Regions from separate parts of the Homo sapiens genome. Here region 1 is linked to region 2. The links come from fine-mapping of genetic effects on gene expression. Tissue or cell type: whole blood. Region 2 holds a variant in brackets; the other region holds the start of a gene. All regions are shown on one strand. Distances are between the middles of the regions.

The links. PIP is the estimated chance that this variant, and not a neighbour inherited with it, causes the effect.
Region 1: UCKL1 starts here. The variant in region 2 is fine-mapped to the expression of UCKL1 in whole blood (TOPMed, PIP above 0.99). The same link has a PIP of 0.9 or more in blood mononuclear cells.

What each region holds. Positions count from the first base shown.
Region 1 is chr20:63,952,443-63,960,499 of GRCh38, reverse strand. UCKL1 (uridine-cytidine kinase 1 like 1) reads left to right here and starts at 4,084. Exons shown (of 15, transcript NM_017859.4): 1 at 4,084-4,240. The coding sequence starts at 4,128. It overlaps ZNF512B (zinc finger protein 512B), which reads left to right. Exons shown (of 17, transcript NM_020713.3): 17 at 361-3,796. The coding sequence ends at 612. UCKL1-AS1 (UCKL1 antisense RNA 1) reads right to left here and starts at 7,116. Exons shown (of 1, transcript NR_027287.2): 1 at 3,515-7,116. RefSeq lists enhancers at 2,125-3,010, 3,011-3,898, 3,928-3,987 and silencers at 3,318-3,527, 4,118-4,487, 4,588-4,637, 4,688-4,997.
Region 2 is chr20:63,925,738-63,935,810 of GRCh38, reverse strand. It overlaps DNAJC5 (DnaJ heat shock protein family (Hsp40) member C5), which reads right to left. Exons shown (of 5, transcript NM_025219.3): 2 at 7,359-7,476; 3 at 6,286-6,499; 4 at 4,789-4,960; 5 at 1-4,346. The coding sequence starts at 7,465. The coding sequence ends at 4,243. Among named protein-coding and RNA genes, the nearest start is that of MIR1914, 11 kb to the left of the region's middle. RefSeq lists an enhancer at 3,074-3,575. The variant G/A (reference allele first, on the strand shown) is at 4,767.

The DNA of each region.
Region 1 (8,057 bases), 26 kb before region 2:
CCTGCCTGGTCCTGAAGGCTGTGTCCAGCCCCCTGCTGCAGGTGCTTGCCTGGTCCAGAAGGCTGTGTCCAGCCCTGCTGCAGGTGCTTGCCTGGTCCCGAAGGCTGTGTCCAGCCCTGCTGCAGGTGCTTGCCTGGTCCCGAAGGCTGTGTCCAGCCCCCTGCAGGTGCTTGCCTGGTCCCGAAGGCTGTGTTCAGCCCCCTGCTGCAGGTGCCTGCCTGGTCCTAAAGGCTGTGTCCAGCCCTGCTGCAGGTGCTTGCCTGGTCCTGAAGGCTGACAGGTCTTCAGCTCTCAGGCTATGCCTGGCTCAGGTGCTCAGCATCCAGTCCCAGGTCTTCATCAGCGCTTTTCTCTCCCCAGAACTGGTTCCGAACATCAGCAGACCCACCTCCCAAACACAGGAGCCAGGACTCATTGGTGCCCAAGAAGGAAAAGAAGAAAAATCTGGCAGGTGGAAAGAAGCGGGGCCGAAAGCCCAAGGAGCGGACCCCAGAGGAGCCTGTGGCCAAGCTGCCCCCGCGCCGGGACGACTGGCCTCCAGGATGCAGAGACAAGGGGGCCCGGGGCTCCACCGGCCGGAAGGTGGGAGTCAGCAAGGCGCCTGAAAAGTGAGCATGGTGCGTGGGGCCTGGCCCCCATGCAGCCGCCACACCGCCCTCTGTTCAAGGCAGGGCCAGCTCCGGGACCTCTGTCCTCCAGTTCTCCATCCCCCACCCCCGCCTCTTCATCCGTCCAGTGGGGCAGCCAGCCACTCTCCCTTCCCTGAAGGTGGCCCTTCCCCTGTTAAGGCTGCCACAGGGCACACCTGGGTTGGGGCTCCCCAAGGTGTGCCCAGCAGAAGTGCAATAGCCAGGAGGGTTGCCCCTCCTCATGGGAATGTGTCTGGGGTCTTGGTGCCACAGGGGCTGCAGCGCAGAGTAGGCAGATGGCCTTTGGCCCCCCGGCTCCGCTTCCTCAGGCCCTGCCGGGTCCCTTCCCTGGCTACCCCAAGGCTCAGGCATCCCTGGTGACCTGTGGTTCTGGGCTGGTGAGGGCACCTGAGCAACCTGGCACGGGCAGCCACCATCCTGGCCTCACCTCCACCCAACACTGGAACTCCAGCACCCCCAGCTACCTCCCAGGACAGACCCCTGTCTGACCACTGCCATGCTGACCTGACAGGCTCCGGCCTGCCCTTGGCCACCCACTTGGTCCCCTTGCTTCTGTTTTCTACCTCTCCAGGCCTGCCCACTACCCCCACCCCTGCTCCTCCTTTGTCAGTGCGATCCCTGCTGTGCTCAGGCCCTGCCCCCCAGGCCTGTCTGTAATTCTCCCAGCTTGGGGCAAGGGAGGGGTTTTGCTTCTTGTACCTACAGGGCAGCAGAAGCTTGATGCCCTTCAACACAGCTGCCAGCCCTGGGGGTGTGGGGCCCCTGGAGTGTGCTCTCCTCCAGTGTTCAGCCTTCTGGCACTGCAGGCCTAGGTTGGAGCAGCCTCGTGGAGTAGGGACGGACTAGTTCGGGCCCTGGGGTCTTGCTGGGGCCCATAGGCATGTGGGGCAGGAAGCTGGGCAGAGCTGGCCTGGCTCTGAGTGGCCACTGGGGGAAAGGCAGCCTTCTGTCTGCCAATCTGGGTAGGCCCAGTGGCCAAGCTCTCATGGGAGCCCCCTCCCCACTTTTTTTTTTAACCTGCCCCCATTGTTTCTGGTTGTGTGGTCATTTGATATGGGAACTGAAGGCCAGCCAGGGGAGGGGCTTGGCCAAAGTCACAGCAGGTTGATGGCAGCTCCAGAGCTGTCTTTGCCCCTTTGTGGCCCTGAGGACGGCTGGGTCTATAGGTAGGGCAGGGGTCAGGCAGGGAGTCCAGGGTGCCTGGAAGAGGTGGCCACAGCCTGTGGCTCCCTCCCTGGGGTCCTGCCTTCCAACCACGGCATTGCAGGGAGGATGAGGCTCAGAGGGGGTAGGTTTGGAGGGAGGCCATTTTCCAGGGTGGGTGGGAGTGGGCTGAGGGCTCGGCCCCACTGACCCTGGACGATGAGAATTTTGATGTTTGCCCGTGTGCGTGTGTCTCCTGGGTGTAGTGGATGCCAGTCTTGTTGCTGTGACAAGTAACAACCTTTTTTTTAAATTGTTTTTTATACAAACACTCGCAATCCGACATTTGGTGCTAAGGGTTTCCTGGTGCAGACGGTGGGCCTGGGGGCTGGGCTGGACCAGGGCGTGGGTCTCTGGGGTTGGGGTCCCTTGCTGCTCAGGGAGGCAGTACTGACTGGGCACTGCCTCTGCCCCCAGCACCCACCCTCCCCCATTCCCCAGGGAGAAGGGGCCCCACTGGGCTTGGCCTGCAGTAGTAGGGAGACAAGTTCCAGGAGCACTTTGGGGACTGGGGTTGCAGAACACTTCCTGTCTCTGGCTTCATCCTTGGGCCAGAAGGCTCCAACCCTCAGCAGCCCTTGCCAGATGTGCCAGGGAGTGGGTGTGGAGACCCGGACTCCCCCCACCCACGCACACCTCGGCCTGATGAGAGGATGGAGGCTGGGGCAGAGATGGGCGTGACCCAGCGTCAGAGGGTCGGGGGAGGCATTCCTTCCTGTGTCCCAGAGCTTCACTGGTGGAGCTGGAGGAGCCGGAGGTGGAGGGTGGGGTCTGGCAGCTGCTGCTGGGGCAGCCTCATGAGGGGAGGGGAGGGGAGGGGAGGGGAGCAGGCACTGGGCGGGGGCCTAGGTGCACTTTGTCCTTGCCACCAATGGCGGGAGGAGGGTGGACCTGAACACCTGCAGGGTGTGGTGCCTGCCCCAGCCTCTCAGGTACTTGGCCCTTGGGGAGAAGAGAAGAGGGTCTGGTTTTTGCTGGGGGTGAGTTTCCGGGACACTCCCAAAGCCCACAGATAATCCCTGGTGTGGGAAGAGGAGTCCTGGATACCTTGATGTTTAGCACTTTAACCCCCTTTGTCTTTAAGGTAGGCGTGGGGGCTACTGCCAGAAGTGGCTGTTGGGTCTGACCCCCTCCTTTCTGCCCTCCCTCTGCCACATGCTGGTCCGCAGAGCCCTCCTCCCAAGGGGTGGGGCCCTGGGTGGAGCTCAGCAGGGTCTGCCCACTCCCTACGCTGGCCCACATAGGCCTCCAGGAGCCCTCAGTGAGAGGGACCAGCATAGCTGACCCCCAGAGTGTGGTGGGCGCCGGCCCTGCCCGAGGCCCAGTCGGGGCCCTTTCTGCAGATCTACCTCTGGCTCAGCGCACGCCCCCTGCCCTGAGAACAGGAAAGGGCCCGGAAGGGCTGACTCACCGGGCCGACGCTCACACGAAAATGGGATGCACTTTATTTGCTGGTGCAAAGGCAGGTGAGGGTGCCTCCTGTGTGACCGTTGGCCCTCCTGCCTGGTGGCGCTGAAGGGAAGGAGCCAGTGAGCCTGACCCCGGGAGGGGCCGTCCCCGTGTGCCGCGTTTGGCGGGGCCCCAGGCGGCTCCCCCAGGCCCGGGTCTGGGGCCCCAGGCTTTCCCCTGCCTCGCGGCCGGGCGTCCCGTGCTTTGGGTTTCTTGGTTTGGGTTTTTTAATGCCAGTTCTCAGTACATAAGTGCATTTTGAAAGAGGTTCCAGCTATCACTTGTAACCATATATATATACATATATATTCTATCTACAAAGTGTTTATTTGCGAGATGTTTCAACGGTGAGTTCGGGCCCCGCCCGCCTTGTGACCATCTGTCCCCGGTCCTCGTCCCCGCCCCGCGCCCTGGTCCCGAGTGGCGTGGGGACGGGCCATCACTGTATGTATTAAAATGACTGTATCAAATAAATGTTTATTGATTTTTTTCCAGGGTTTTTGTGCGGCTCAGTTTGTGGTGAAAAACAGGGGGCGGGGCCCTCCAGGCACGTGGCGGAGGCTGCCGAACTACGGGTCCCCCATGCCCGCCGCGCGGCCTTGTGGGGCTTGTAGTCCGCGACGCGCGGCCTTGTGGGGCTTGTAGTCCGCGACGCGCGGCCTTGTGGGGCTTGTAGTCCGCGACGCGCGGCCTTGTGGGGCTTGTAGTCCGCGACGCGCGGCCTTGTGGGGCTTGTAGTCCGCGGTGGGCAAGAGAGGGACCCGCCAGCTCCCGGCGGCCCATGCGCGCCGCCCGGCCAGGCCCGCAAAGAGGCCTCCGAGCGCCATGGCTGCGCCCCCGGCCCGCGCGGACGCTGATCCTTCGCCCACGTCGCCACCTACGGCCCGAGACACACCAGGCCGGCAGGCTGAGAAAAGCGAGACCGCGTGCGAGGACCGGTAGGCGTGGGCCTCGCCTCCACTCCACTGGCGAGCGGGAAGGGGCTGCAGATCCGGCCGAGCTGGGCGGGTGGTCCGTCCCCGCCGCGAGCCCAAGTCCCCCACTCCCGGAGGCCAGGCGGCGGCGCCCCGTTCTCCCACGTGCCGGGTGGAACCCCGCGGGCTTGAAGCGGCCGGGAGGACGGACCTGGCCCAAGCCGGCAGGCTCCTCGGGGCTCGGGGAAGGAGTCCGGGTGCGCACCCCCAGCGTTGACCTTGGTCTCTGCCCCCGGTGGGTGGGGCCCTCGGCCTCGAGCGCCCGGCGGGCTGTGTGCCTGCTCGACTGTGCGAGTTGGTCTATGTTGTCGGCTCGGGGTGTGGCCCTGCCCGACCCGCGAGGCCAGGGCTTAGGATTTGGAGGTGCTGCGGCGCACGGTGCCTTCGGATTGCCTCGCACGCGCGTGGCACCTTCGAGCCTCTGCGGGGGCTTTGCAAGAGCATGAAGTGGGGAAGTTGTGGGGGTGCAGCGGGAGGAACCCGCCCCCACCCCGGTTCGTCACCCCGAGTGGCCCCTCTGGGAGCCGGGCCCTGCGCGGCGCCTTTGGGGCCGTGGCCGTCAGGGGGCGGTGGCCACGCAGTGCCCGGGGCTGCAAGAGGGCGCTCTGGGCGCTGCCCCTCCCTTCCGGGTCTGAAGTGTCCCTTGGGGAGCCCGCGGGGTCCCCAGGAAGGGGTTGTTCCCACTCAGGCGCCTCTTGCCTGGGTTCAGGCTGTGACTCCTGTCAGAAACGCTGTGAGCCAGGACTCCCTCAGAGATGGGCTGCGCTGGATGCCGCAGGGGGAAGGGTGTCCCGGCACAGGGTCGCTCCTCTCCAGGAGCTGCTGAGCAGAAAGAGCTTTCCCCTGGCCCTGCGTCCCTTCAGGTCCACACCCTCCCAGTGGGCAGTGACTAGGAACTTTGCATGGCTGGAGTCTAATAGGGCCTGAGTCTGTTCCTCTGCTGGTTCCAAAGAGGCGTTGTTTTTTTGTTTTGAGATGGAGTCTCACTCTGTCGCCCAGGCTGGAGTGCAGTGGCTCGATCTCGGCTCACTGCAACCTCCCTTTCCCGAGCTCAGTTCAAGCAATTCTCCTGCCTCAGCCTCCCGAGTAGCTGGAATTACAGGTGTGCGCCACCACGCCCGGCTAATTTTTTTTTGTATTTTTAGTAGAGAGGTATTTTGTCAGGTTGTCCAGGCTGGTCTCCAACTCCTGACCTCAGGTGATCTGCCCGCCTCGGCCTCCGTGGGATTACAGGCGTGAGCCACCGCGCCCAGCCACCAAAGAGGTTTTGATTTAACCCGAGGTGGGGCAGGCCAACGCTAGATAAGCACTGAGAGCTCTTGAGAAAGGCACTCCTGGATGACACAGGTTGGTGGCAGCAGCCATCTGGGCCTGCCCTGTGCACAGACGGTGGGCTGGGCACGGTGGCCCTCGCTGTGTCCCACGAGGCAGAGACTGTTGTTATCTTTCTTTGGTGTGGTTACCAAGGGACAGGAGGGAAGCTCCAGGCAGTGAGGATAGATTGCAGCACCCTTCTCCAGGGGCCCCGGTCTGCCCTGGAACTGCCTCTTGTCTTAGGCACATTTCTTGCACTTTGTGTCCTGATGCTTGTGCCATCGAGGACTTCCTCTGCCCCAGCCTAGGGCTTTTCTCACTGTTCCCCGAGCGTGTCCCCAACGTTCCTGCGTCTGCCCCTCTTCAACCTCTGCTGCTGCCCTTAGTGTTCCAGAGCAGGCTCCAGCTTGGAGGTCTGTGCACGGGTGGAGGTCTGTCCCCAGGGCTGGGGTTCCTCCACCACCGTTCCAGTGCCTCCTGCCACATCCTCCCGGCAATCAGTCTGTCCATCTTGCCTGTTGTTTATTGTCTGCTTGCCACTCGTGACTCTGTCCTGGGCACCTGCCCCCAGAGCTGGCCCGTGCTGGTGCAGGAACAGGTCCTTTGTGGTGTTAGCAGTGACTCCTGGCTGCGGTTGAGATGGAGTCTGGGGCTGTGGAAGTGGGGAGCAGAGGGAGGCTGCCCATGATCTGTGCAGGGCAGGTCCTGCTGAGGGAAGGTTTCCTGAGTGGTGGGGTGGGCCAGGGCAAGCCCCCAACCCCCAGTGCTCATCCAGCCTGAGAAAGCAGCCCTAATGACTCTCCCTGAGTCAGTCCGGCACCAGTGGGGTCAGGCCTGCATTGGCTCCTGTGGGCTAGCTCCTCCCTGCTCCCTCCTCCCCCCAGCCTCATTTTAGTTATCCAGCAAACTTCCCTTAAACCTGACCTGTCAGGAGGTGCCGTGCTACAGGCACCCAGCAGGAAGGTCCGTGGGCGATGGTGACCCCAGGGGTGGTAGAACAGGCCTGAACCACAGCAAGGGAGTGCCCGAGCCTTCCTTTCTCCCTGTGTGCTCTCTCCCGTGGCTGTTTCCTCAGTGTCGGTTTCACATGCCCTGCGCTCCCTGCTGCTGGACGTTTGCTTCTGGTTTCCTTGGCATTGTGGATGGTTCGTGAGGGGCAGCCCTGCCTCCAGGTCTCCACACATGCCTGTGCTTATTTTTCTTCCTTTCTTTTTTTTTTGGAGATAGAGTCCTGGGCTGGAGTGCAATGGCACCATCTCGGCTCACTGCAACCTCCGCCTCCCGGGTTCAAGCAGTTCTCCTGCCTCAGCCTCCCGAGTAGCTGGGACTACAGGCGCCCGCCACCACGCCCAGCTAATTTTTTGTATTTTTAGTAGAGACGGGGTTTCACCATGTTGGCCAGGCTGGTCTTGAACTCCTGACCTCAGATGATCTGCCCGCTCAGCCTCTGAAAGTGCTGGGATTACAGGCGTGAGCCACTGCACCCGGCTGCCTGTGTGTATTTCTTTTGTTTTGTTTTGTTTTGTTTTTGAGATGGAGTTTTGCTCTTGTTGCCCAGGCTGGATTGCAGTGGCGCAATCTCAGCTCACAGCAACCTCTGCCTCCCGGGTTCAAGCAATTCTCCTGCCTCAGCCTCCCAAGTAGCTGGGATTACAGGCATGTGCCACTACGCCCGGCTAATTTTGTGTTTTTAGTAGAGACAGGGTTTCTCCATGTTGGTCAGGCTGGTCTCAAACGCCCAACCTCAGGTGATCCACCTGCCTTGGCCTCCCAAAGTGCTGGGATTACAGGCATGTGCCACCGTGCCCAGCTAATTTTGTATTTCTAGTAGAGATAAGGTTTCTCCACGTTGAGGCTGGTCTCAAACTCCGACCTTGGGTGATCCGCCCGCCTCGGCCTCCCACAGTGCTGGGATGACAGGCGTGAGCCACCGCGCCCGGCCACCTGTGCCTATTTCTTGACGATGACATCAGTTATGGGGCCTGATCACCGATGAGGCATCTGCCTTGGACTTTATGAGCTGACCCACCTGTAATGAACCTGCTGTTAGTCCTTGAGGAGGAAACTGAGGCAAGCTGTGGCTCCGTGGAGGGGACTGAGCCACATTCGACTGTGCTGTGGCCCAGAGTAGGATGGCTGAAGGTGAGGGAAGGGCAAGGGGTGCCCTGAAGTGACTGAGGCAGCCTCCAGCACCACGGGCCTCAGACAGCCCCACCTGCAAGGAGGAAGCCTTAGGCAGAAGGTGCTCTGGGCAGCGCTTACCCCAGCGCGGCATCAGCACCTGTGGGTGGCGTGGGAATGGGAGTTCTCTGGACCGGCCCAGCTCAGGAAGTTAGAACCTGGGAGGAACACCAGTGAATAGGACCAGGGCAGGCTACCCCTCCCCACCGTGAGCGGCCCCTCCCTGCCGTGGGCTGCTGTGGCCGAGAGCAGCCCCGTGGAGGGGCATGTTGGGGACCACGTGGCC
Region 2 (10,073 bases):
TGTGCATTTGATTTTTAAAAACAATACATATTTCAGTGTTAACTTCCCCCCTCACCTGGCTTGAAACATTTTCCCCATTTTCCAGGGAAACAAACTCTACCAAAAGGTGCCGCCTGCAGGACCCCGGGCCCAGCCCCTTCTGGAGGTGGTGCTGTGTGGACTCCTCTGGGGCGGACCCGGGGCCAGCACAGGGCCCCTTCCCAGGCCGCCCTTCAGATGCAGCTTTGCCACTGACCGTATCTGCTGCTCAGAAAATCAGCTTTCATGTTTCAAGGCAGGGAAGGGCTTCCAGTCCCCTCCTCGATTTCACACCGGGACACACACCTGGGTCAGGTGAGCATGACACACAGCCCCCAGGATGGGCACCCCACCCTGCAGAGCAGAGGCCAATGCTGGTGGGGGCCGTGGCAGTGCCCTGGGCACACACCCTCTGCACACAGTGGGCTCAGCGCTTCCTTCTGTGCACCTGCTGGGAAAGCCTCCTGCAGGTCCCTGCCCGACTCCCAAGAAACCAGAGGCCATTTCAGAGCCACCTTTAATTGTACTTGTCACTTCACCAGGGGACAGCAGCATGAATGACACTCCTGCTGCGTGATATATACATATACACATATGTACACACACGGACACACCACAGCCCACACTCACAGCATGTGACGACGCAAACTGTTGCTGGTAAGGACAGTAAAAATGTAGCTTTTGCCAATTCCACAGGAGAATGATTTACAACCAAAATAACAGACACAGGCCAGTCCTGCGCCACAGGGGTTCACAGCTCTGAATACTGGGAAAGGGTGAGATCAGTCATTTCGTGTCCCCTCACGAGATGTCCCCACAGTAGGATGCACTGAGTCAGAGCTAAGGGAGGGTGGACAAGCGCTGAACTCTGCCCGCAGCACCCGGACCCTCCAGTGGCAGCCTGCATGCTGGTGCCCTTCCTTGCAGCACAAGCCTCGCCCGGAACAGAACGCCTGAGAGCAGCCTCGACGGCGTGAGGCTCCAGGGCCTCTTCTGGATGGCAGCAGCCGACGTGAAGACGAAGCTTTTCCTGCTGGGCACGTGTGCATGCCAGTTCCTTTTTCTAGTAGGTCCCCACTGGGTGCTGGCTGCACTAACAACATAGAGAACTAGGAAAGTTCACAAACACTGAGCAGTAATATCTAAAGCAGTTTAAAAATAAAGCCAAAAGGAAGACAAAAAAATCCCACGTCACTGAGTGGAGACAAATCTATACAGCAGCAGCTGCCGTGAAAGGGCCCGCAGGGCCGCTCCTACGCCTCCTGCAGGTCGGAAGCAGTCAGTGCTGCCCGGACCCCCTCGTGAACCGGACGGGCCTCAAAGCACGACCCCAGAGGGCCCCTGGCAGCCCCCAGCAGCGGCGTCCAAAGGGACATTCTGTGCCCATGGCCACACTTGCTCACAGCATTGTCTGCGGCCCGAGAGTGAGGAGTCGGGGTCCCGTCACTGCCACCAGCAAAAGCAGGCAGGGGTGCTGGGGGCGTCCTGATCTGTTAGCACGTGGACAGGGAGGCGCGGAAGCTGCCCCAGGACTCACCACCTCTTTTAATTATAGGGAAACAGTCCACTCAAGAAAGAGAGAAATAAAACCCGGGAGGATCTTTTTCCTTAAATTAAGACAAAGCCTTAAAGCCAACAGGGCAGAGCGCTGAAAACGGTTCTGCTTCTAGGTCAGGCAGGGGGAGGAACTCCAGGCCCCGAGTGTCTGGGCTTCCCGGGGGTCGTCTAATCACAATCACCACCGTGAGAATGGCCACAACCATGATTTATTAGGTTTTACAGATTCTGCAGGGGACTGGGTTCCACAAACCTCCAGACCTGCTCCTCTTTCCCACCCTACCCCACCTTCCGCAGGGAGCTGCATGGTTCTACAAAATGGTCCACTGGACTCTGTAACTGAAAAGCCACCTGGCAAGGGGCCCACTCTGATGGGTACCGAAGGGCCTTGGAGTGTTCTAGCCACAGAGCTGTGTGCAGGCCCAACAGAGGGCCTGGTGGGGCTGAGCTAGGGCCCCCGATGGGCAGCTTTCTACCTTAGGTCCAAGCTTAGAACCTGGCTCTTGGCCAGTCTGCGGAAAAATAACTCACGTCCTAAGCTACATCTACAAAAATTGCAAAGGCTGAGTACAGCCAGCATCTCAGGCTGAACTTGCTGCTGCACGAAGCGGCACGGAGGCACCCCACTGTCTCGCCACCTCACCTTTCAGGATGGGCCAAACAATGAATTTCTTATTCTTTTAGGAGAGGTCTGATTTTGATAAATTATTTCTAATTTAATATCACAGTGCATATCTCTCCTCTTGTCAAAGGTCTTCGTGATCATTTTAGTGAGAAGAAACAAAGAAAAGTGGGACAAACAAAGCTGCCCAGGACCTAGTGCTGGCAGCCGGCTCATGGTCCACATGCGGATCTGCAGTAGGGGTCAGCTGGGGGCCCTCAACCAGCACCCTGTTCCTAAGCACGTCCAGATGTATCCTCATATCCATGTCCCTTTTGGCAGCTTCCTGGTCAACCTGAACCTACCCTTCTGCACAGCCTCGGGTGGCTGCTGAGGGCAATGAGTGAGCTGGGGCCACGGGTCAGCAGGCAGGCAGGGAAGGGGGCTTCAGGAGGCTCATCTGGTTGGTCCGAGCCAGAGCCATCACACACAGCCTCCTCCTCAGCTTTATCTCTACAGGGACCTCTGCAACTCTGCAGCGGCCACCATGGACATTCTGCAGAAACCAGGCCCACTGGAGTCTGCAGCATGGCGCCAAAGGCAGGCCCAGCACATCCCATGAGCTACGGAGTGCGGGCAGCTCTGAGCCCTCAGCCAGCACAGGGACATCAGACCCGTTCCCCCTGCTCCCCTATGCAGGGCGCCACCCACAAGGTCTAGGACACGCAAGAGACTGACTTCCCATGGTCCACATGTGGATTCCGTAGTCTGGCTGCTGGCCTCCCAAGGGACCCACAATGGTCCACGTGTGGATTCCGTGGCCTGGCTGCCGGCCTCCCAGGGACCCACAATGGTCCACGTGTGGATTCTGTGGCCTGGCTGCCGGCCTCCCAGGGACCCAACCCTCCTGAGCCAGAGGGTCCCTCTGGTCCAGTCAGTCCTTCCTCCAGGGACCTAACGAATCTGGCTCTGCCTGAATCATCGATGACGGGGCAAAGGCGAGTGGGGCAGATGGGAGCTCTGGCAAACACAGGAGGAGGGGTCGTGGGAGAGCCCCCGTCCCCAGTAGCTGGGTGCTCACACATGCACAATCTACTCTCTGACTGTGGCTCATTGGGCTGGTCCTATCATCTGTGGTTCTAAAGGTCCAAAAAGGGCTATGGAAAGGACAGGTGTGCTGGAAGGAATGTGGAGAACGACCTCAAGATGGGAGGGGGGAGACTGGCCCCATCAATCCAGCTCAGAGCCCGGGAAAAGTGCAGGAACACAGACAAATAACCCCAACACGGCGAAGGACACACCTCCGAGAACCAGAACGGCAGCGTCCACACGACGAGACGACCAGGCGAGAAACACCGCGGAGGACACGGTGTCAACCTCGGAAGGGGCCTCCTATGCTTTCCACACCAAATTCTCCCACGGGAGAAACCCTGCCACAAGGCCCAGGAAACCACAGACCCCCAAGCCAACCATGCCCAGCACAGACACCAAGGAATGACAGTGACGCCGGTGACGCCAGGAGGACGCGGCCCCGCCTCTCTTCTGGCAGGTGAGATCAGAGTCCTACTGCAGCCTCAAGGCTGGGAGCACAGAGTGTGGACCAGACCCCGAGGCCAAGACGGTAACACAGCTCTGCCAGGCAGCACCTGCCTCCGGCCCCTCAAGCACAGGTAGGAAAGGGGCAGCCCCCCTTCTCCTCGCCCACCTGACCGGCTGCAGTCACCCCTCACTGGACCAACCTGACCGACAGCCCTGAGGCAGCTCCACCGTGCAGTTCACGCGGTCATGCCGCGGAATGTCCACAACACAGACATGGAACAGAACCCCATACATGCTATTAAAAAAGGGAAAAAAACAGAAGACCGTAGCTACACTGCTTTAAATACTGCATGCTACGCACTTCGTGGGTCAAGGGTCGACGCTGGGTGGGCGTGGAGGCAGGAGGGGCCCCAGCAAGGCCAGGGCAGGCAGGAGGCTGCCTTCCCATCTCTGTGACTACAGTTCATGATTCTAAGGTTGGCGTGGCCAGGCGCCGGCTCCTCCTCTGACCACAGCTCCTCCTGGATTTAGTTGAACCCGTCAGTGTGGTAGCTGGGGTGGGAGTCGGCTGTGAGCTGGGTGGTCTCGGTGGCGGATGCCGGCTGTATGACGATCGGCGTGTCTGTGGCCTCTGAAAAGCAAGCACACAGGGCACTGCACGAGGGCCACAGCCTGGCGCGCACCCAACGCTGGTCCTGTGGAGCGACTTTCGGGCACCTGGACAAACTCTCCACCGGGAGAGGCTACTCGCTGACCTCCACCCCACACGGCTTTCCTCCGTCGCCTTGGGTCACCGCCAGCCCTCGGCCCTCAGCCCCGCCCCAACTGCCTGCCGCCCTGCCCCGCCTCGCAGTCCCTGGGATCTACGGCTACCGCAGGTCACGGCGGGGACAGCTCTATGCGCCTGCTTTACCTCAGGGTCCACGTTCACACCTCAACAGTCCCAGCTGCCACCACAAACACTCGCGGCACAGTGTCAGTGCCCTCCTGTTTGACAAGACAGGTTGACACCATTCAGGGCCCATTCTGGCTCTGCCCCACACACACACAC[G/A]GGCCCTGGGGCGGGCACTCACCCCTCTCGTCAGACTGCAGCTGTGCCTCCAGATCCTCGGGGGACACGTAGAACTCCGTCTCCTCGCCTTCAGGCGCCTTGGGCTTACACTTCCCGCAGCAGCAGTTGAAGCAGCAGCACAGACAGCAGCAGCAGTAGCAGCACGTGAGGAGGCCGCAGAAGACAAACAGGGCCTGGGGGGAGAAGAAGGTGGTGTTGCATGGCCTCCGAGGCCCCTGGAGAGGGAGGCGCAGGACTCCCAAATGCCCTCAGCAGAAGGCAGGGGGTGCGTTCCAGGTGGGGATACTGCCTTCCAGACAGGAAGCAGAAGGAAAGAACTGAAGAAGGGAGGAGGAGAGACAGAAAGAAACCCGCAGCTTAAAGAAAAGCAGCCTCCAAGACGGGCGTGGTGGCCCATGCCTGTCATCCCAGCACTCCAGGAGGCCGAGGCTGGCGGATCACGAGGTCAGGAGATCGAGACCATCCTGGCTAACACGGTGAAACCCTGTCTCTACTAAAAATACAAAAAATTAGCTGGACGTGGTGGCGGGCACCTGTAGTCCCAGCCACTCGGGAGGCAGAGGCAGGAGAATGGCGTGAACCCGGGAGGTGGAGCTTGCAGTGAGCCAAGATCGCGCCACTGCACTCCAGCCTGGGAAACAGAGCGAGACTCCGTCTCAAAAAAAAAACAAAGCAGCCTCCAGGCTGGGCACAGTGGTTCACGCCTCAACTCCTGCAGTTCTGGAGCTGAAGTGGGAGGATCACTTGAACCCAGGAATTCAAAGTTAAAGTGAGCCAGGATCTCACCACAGCACTCCAGTCTGGGCAACAGAGCGAGACTCTGTCTAACATTAACTAAATAAAAAGTACTTTATAAGGATTCTAGTGAGGAGGCCGACCAGTCAAAGCCAAATACAGGCTTCTCACAAATGCCATGCAGTGATTCCAACCCTCTGGCCTCATATATGACATTTGGAACAAAACGAGGAAACGAAGAAATGCGGATGTAACATCGAGGCTTATTTCCTCCTGTCTCACGAAGGACTGGGAGCCATTTACAGAAGAAACCCTGGCGGCTCCGCACGGCTCTTCCCTGGGACAATCTGTACGCTATGGCTTGTTCCAGGCAGGACACCAAGCCAGTGACAGAGCTTCGCCCATCACACAGGTGAGGAGAAAGGCTCCATATGCCCAGAAGCCTTTTCTCAGGAGTGTAGAGTTGCTGGCATCAACGCATGGGCTCTGCAATGCTGGGAACCCTGCAGGCGTGGAGTGACCCGGGTGCCCACATGGCAGGAGAGACTCGGGTGCCCGCACGGCAGGAGTGACTCGGGCGCCCGCACGGCAGGAGTGACTCGGGTGCCCGCACGGCAGGAGAGACTCGGGTGCCCGCACGGCAGGAGAGACTCGGGTGCCCGCACGGCAGGAGTGACTCGGGTGCCCGCACGGCAGGAGAGACTCGGGTGCCCGCACGGCAGGAGTGACTCGGGTGCCCGCACGGCAGGCAGCTCGCCCTCACCTTGGCCCACCAGCTGGACAGCACGAAGTAGGTGTTCACGTTCTCTTCCCCAAACTGCTCGGCCACGTAGAGACCCAGCGAGCCGTACTTGTCGTAGATGTTCCTTTTTGTGGCGTCCGTGAGGATGGCGTGCGCGTTGTTGATCTCCTTAAACTTGTCCGCGGCCTCCGGGTTGTCGGGGTTCTTGTCGGGGTGATATTTCAAGGCAAGCTTCCTGCAAACCAAAACCATGTCCTGGCTCTACCCTGGACTTTGTTCCACCCGCACCCGCCGCCGCGTCCATCCCACCCGCACGCACTGCCGGGTGCAGTGGAAGGCAGGTCCACCCAGGCCACCTCACTGTCCGACTCTCCAGGGCTGCAGGGGCCAGGGACAAAAGCAAGCTCCGCGGTTGTTTCAGGTAAACCTCCTCACCCTGACCCAGCCTCAGAGGAGGGAGCCCCAAGGGCTGTGAGTGCCACGGCACATCTAAGTTCAGCGGCACCAAGGCCAGCCCTGGTGTCCCAGCCGCTAACTGCACAAGTGCCAAGTGAACGGTAAGCACGGCGGGGCGTAATGATGGCACTTTAAGAAGTGTTTTATGAACTACACGATGCTAGCACACGAGAGGAGGACTATCTGAATTGTCTGGATTAGTGATGGTGTCTCTTACAGGTTACTCAATGAAACTGTACCCAAGAGTGCAGTTCTTCAAGCTCAATCAGAAGGCCACAACAGAGTGAGGGGTCTCTGTCATCACTGTGCTAAAACAAGGAGACCACAGGACCATGCCAGCGCTCTGCGGCTCCTGTGAGGCCTCAAACAGGTTCAGACCCTGACTCCCTATGGAACTGTGGACAGTGTGTCAGTTTCTACTAAGTGCTATTTTTTGTTGGCAAGAGAACATGAATACCATAACTTTAAGCTATAAGGAGCACATTACACATACAAAGGTGTTACCGAGCTGTGACCAGTTCAACGCTGAGTCGGCCAGGATAAAGTATGTGCAATGGTTCTTGGTAAAATGCAGACTAAACCACACGGGGCATGTGTGTCTTCCTGGGGGGATGTGGGGGCCACACTTGTCCACTTACCGATAGGACTTTTTAATGTCATCTGAGGTTGCGTTCTTGTCCAACCCAAGGACGTGGTACAATGACTCCCCAGAGGTAGACAGTGAGCGCTGTCTCTGGTCTGCCATGTTAGGCTATTCTAGAAGAAAAAATAAAAAGAAAGTATCACAAAGTATAGATGAAAGTACCAAGGGCAGAGCTGATGGACTTTATTCCATAAGACCGTTCAAAGCAAAAGAATCCAACACTGCCTTGTGGAGTTTGCCACGTGCACAGACAGACGCCATGGCATGGAGAAGTGTGAGACGGCAGAATACGGCCACCCCAAGAGATCCTGAAGAACTGCAGCTGTGTACTGTGGGCCGGCACAGGGGCTCACACCTGTAGTCCCAGCATTTTGGGAGGCTGAGGCGGGAGGACCGCTTGAGCCCAGGAGTTTGAGGCTGCAGTGAGCTATGATCACTCCACTGCACTGGAGCCCAGGAGACAGGGACCCTGTTCCTTAAAAACAAATATATAAATAAACAAAATAAATTAATTAATTAAAATAAACATGCATATTGTAATCCTTACAGCAACCTCTGCATAAAAAATGCAAAGAGGTATAAGCTAAAAAGTTACAAGAAAAATGAAAAAGTAACTCAACACAGGAAACAAATAGAAAATTAGTTGGAAGATCTAAATCCAAACATATCAACAATTAAATTCAATGTTAGTGGACAAAAAACTCCAATTAAAGTAAGGGACTGACAGAATGGATAAAAATGCAAGACCCAACTTTAATTTTAATACTTTCTCAGAAATCGACAGAACAGACCAAAAATCAGGAAAAACATCGATGTTCTGAACAACACTATCAACCACCATGACCTGATCTTCACAGAACACCCAACATCTAGAGAACACACAGTTTCTTTCTTTCTTTTTTGGGGGGGGGGACAGTTTTGCTCTTGTTGCCCAGGCTGGAGTGCAATGGCACGATCTCGGCTCACCACAACCTCCGCCTCCCCGGTTCAAGCAATGCTCCTGCCTCAGCCTCACACAGGAGTAGCTGGGATTACAGGCATGTGCCACCACACCCAGCTAATTTTGGTATTTTTAGTAGAGATGGGGTTTCTCCATGTTGGCCAGGCTGGTCTTGAATTCCCGACCTCAGGCTGAACTCCCGACCTCAGGTGATCCGCCTGCCTCAGCCTCCCACAGTGCTGGGGTTATAGGTGTGAGCCACAGCGCCTGGCAAATACACATTGTTTCTACATTGTTTCTAACTAATCAACCACCATGACGTGACAGTCACAGAACACCCAACATCTAGAGAACACACATTGTTTTTAACTGAATGCTGTACACTAAGACAAGCCACATGTTAGGGCTTCAAGCTGGTTTCAATAAACGTAATGGAATGAGGTCACACACAGCACTATCCCTGACTTAGCTACAAACTGGAAACCCAGGAGGAAGATACTCTTGATATTCAACAACACACCTCCGGCTAACATGTAGCTCAAAGAAGAAATCCCAGGGGAACTTAGAAAATGTTTTGAATTGAATAATAAATACAGTGTACATGACGGTTAATTTCATGTCTCCTTTGCTGCATCGTGGGGCACCCAGATGAAACATGACTTCAGGGTGTGCCTGGGAGGGTGTTTCTTGGTAAGAGCAGCACCTGAGCTGGGGGCTCCATGAAGCCAACTGCGCTGCCCTGTGCAGGTGAGTGTCGTCCCAGTCCACGGGGGTCCCGAATAGAAAGGGGTGGGAGGAGGAGTTGGCCTGGGTTTTCCTTCTCGCCTGCCAGCCTGAGCGGGGCCACGTGTCTCCTCCTGTCCTTGGACTGTTATTATCCCACTGCTTTCCTCAATCTTCAGCAAATGGCAGAGCATGAGATTCCGTCTCCATAATGACGTGGGCCAATTCCTCATAACAAATCTCCTTTAGAAAGAGACACAGATAATGGCAACGTTCCTCTGCAGAATGCTGACTAGTACAACACGTTAATCAAGGCCTAAGGCTCCGCCTCAGGAAGCTACAAAGTAACAGGATAAACCCAACATAAATGCAAGCAAGGAAATCATAAGGAACAGAAATCCATGAAAACAAACAGATAACTTCAACAAAGCCAAAAGAGTTGGTTCTTTGAGCAACATGAGGAAAGACATCACTACAGATCCTAGAGGCGTGAAAAGGATAAAATACGAACAACTTCATGCCAAGAAATTAGAAAAATTAGATGAAATGGACAAATATCTTGAAAATTACAATTTACCAAGACTGACATGAAATAGAAAATCTGAATAGGCCTGCATCTGTTAATAAAGTTATATTTGTAATAAAAAATCCCCAGAAGGCCAGGCGCCGTGGCTCACGCCTGTAATCCCAGCACTTTGGGAGGCCAAGGCGGGCAGATCACGAGATCAGGAGATTGAGACCATCCTGGCTAACACAGTGAAACCCCATCTCTAATAAAAATACAAAAAAATTAGCCGGAAGTGGTGGCAGGCACCTGTAGTCCCAGCTACTCGGGAGGCTGAGGCAGGAGAATGACGTTAACCCGGAAGGCGGAGCTTGCAGTGAGCAGAGATCGCACCACTGCACTCCAGCCTGGGCGACACAGCGAGACTCCGTCTCAAAAAAAAAAAAAAAAAAAACCAGATAAAATTCCAGGCCCAGATTTTTTTTTTAACCAAATATTTAGGAAATGACATCAATATGGGGTTTTGAGATAGTCTCGCTTTG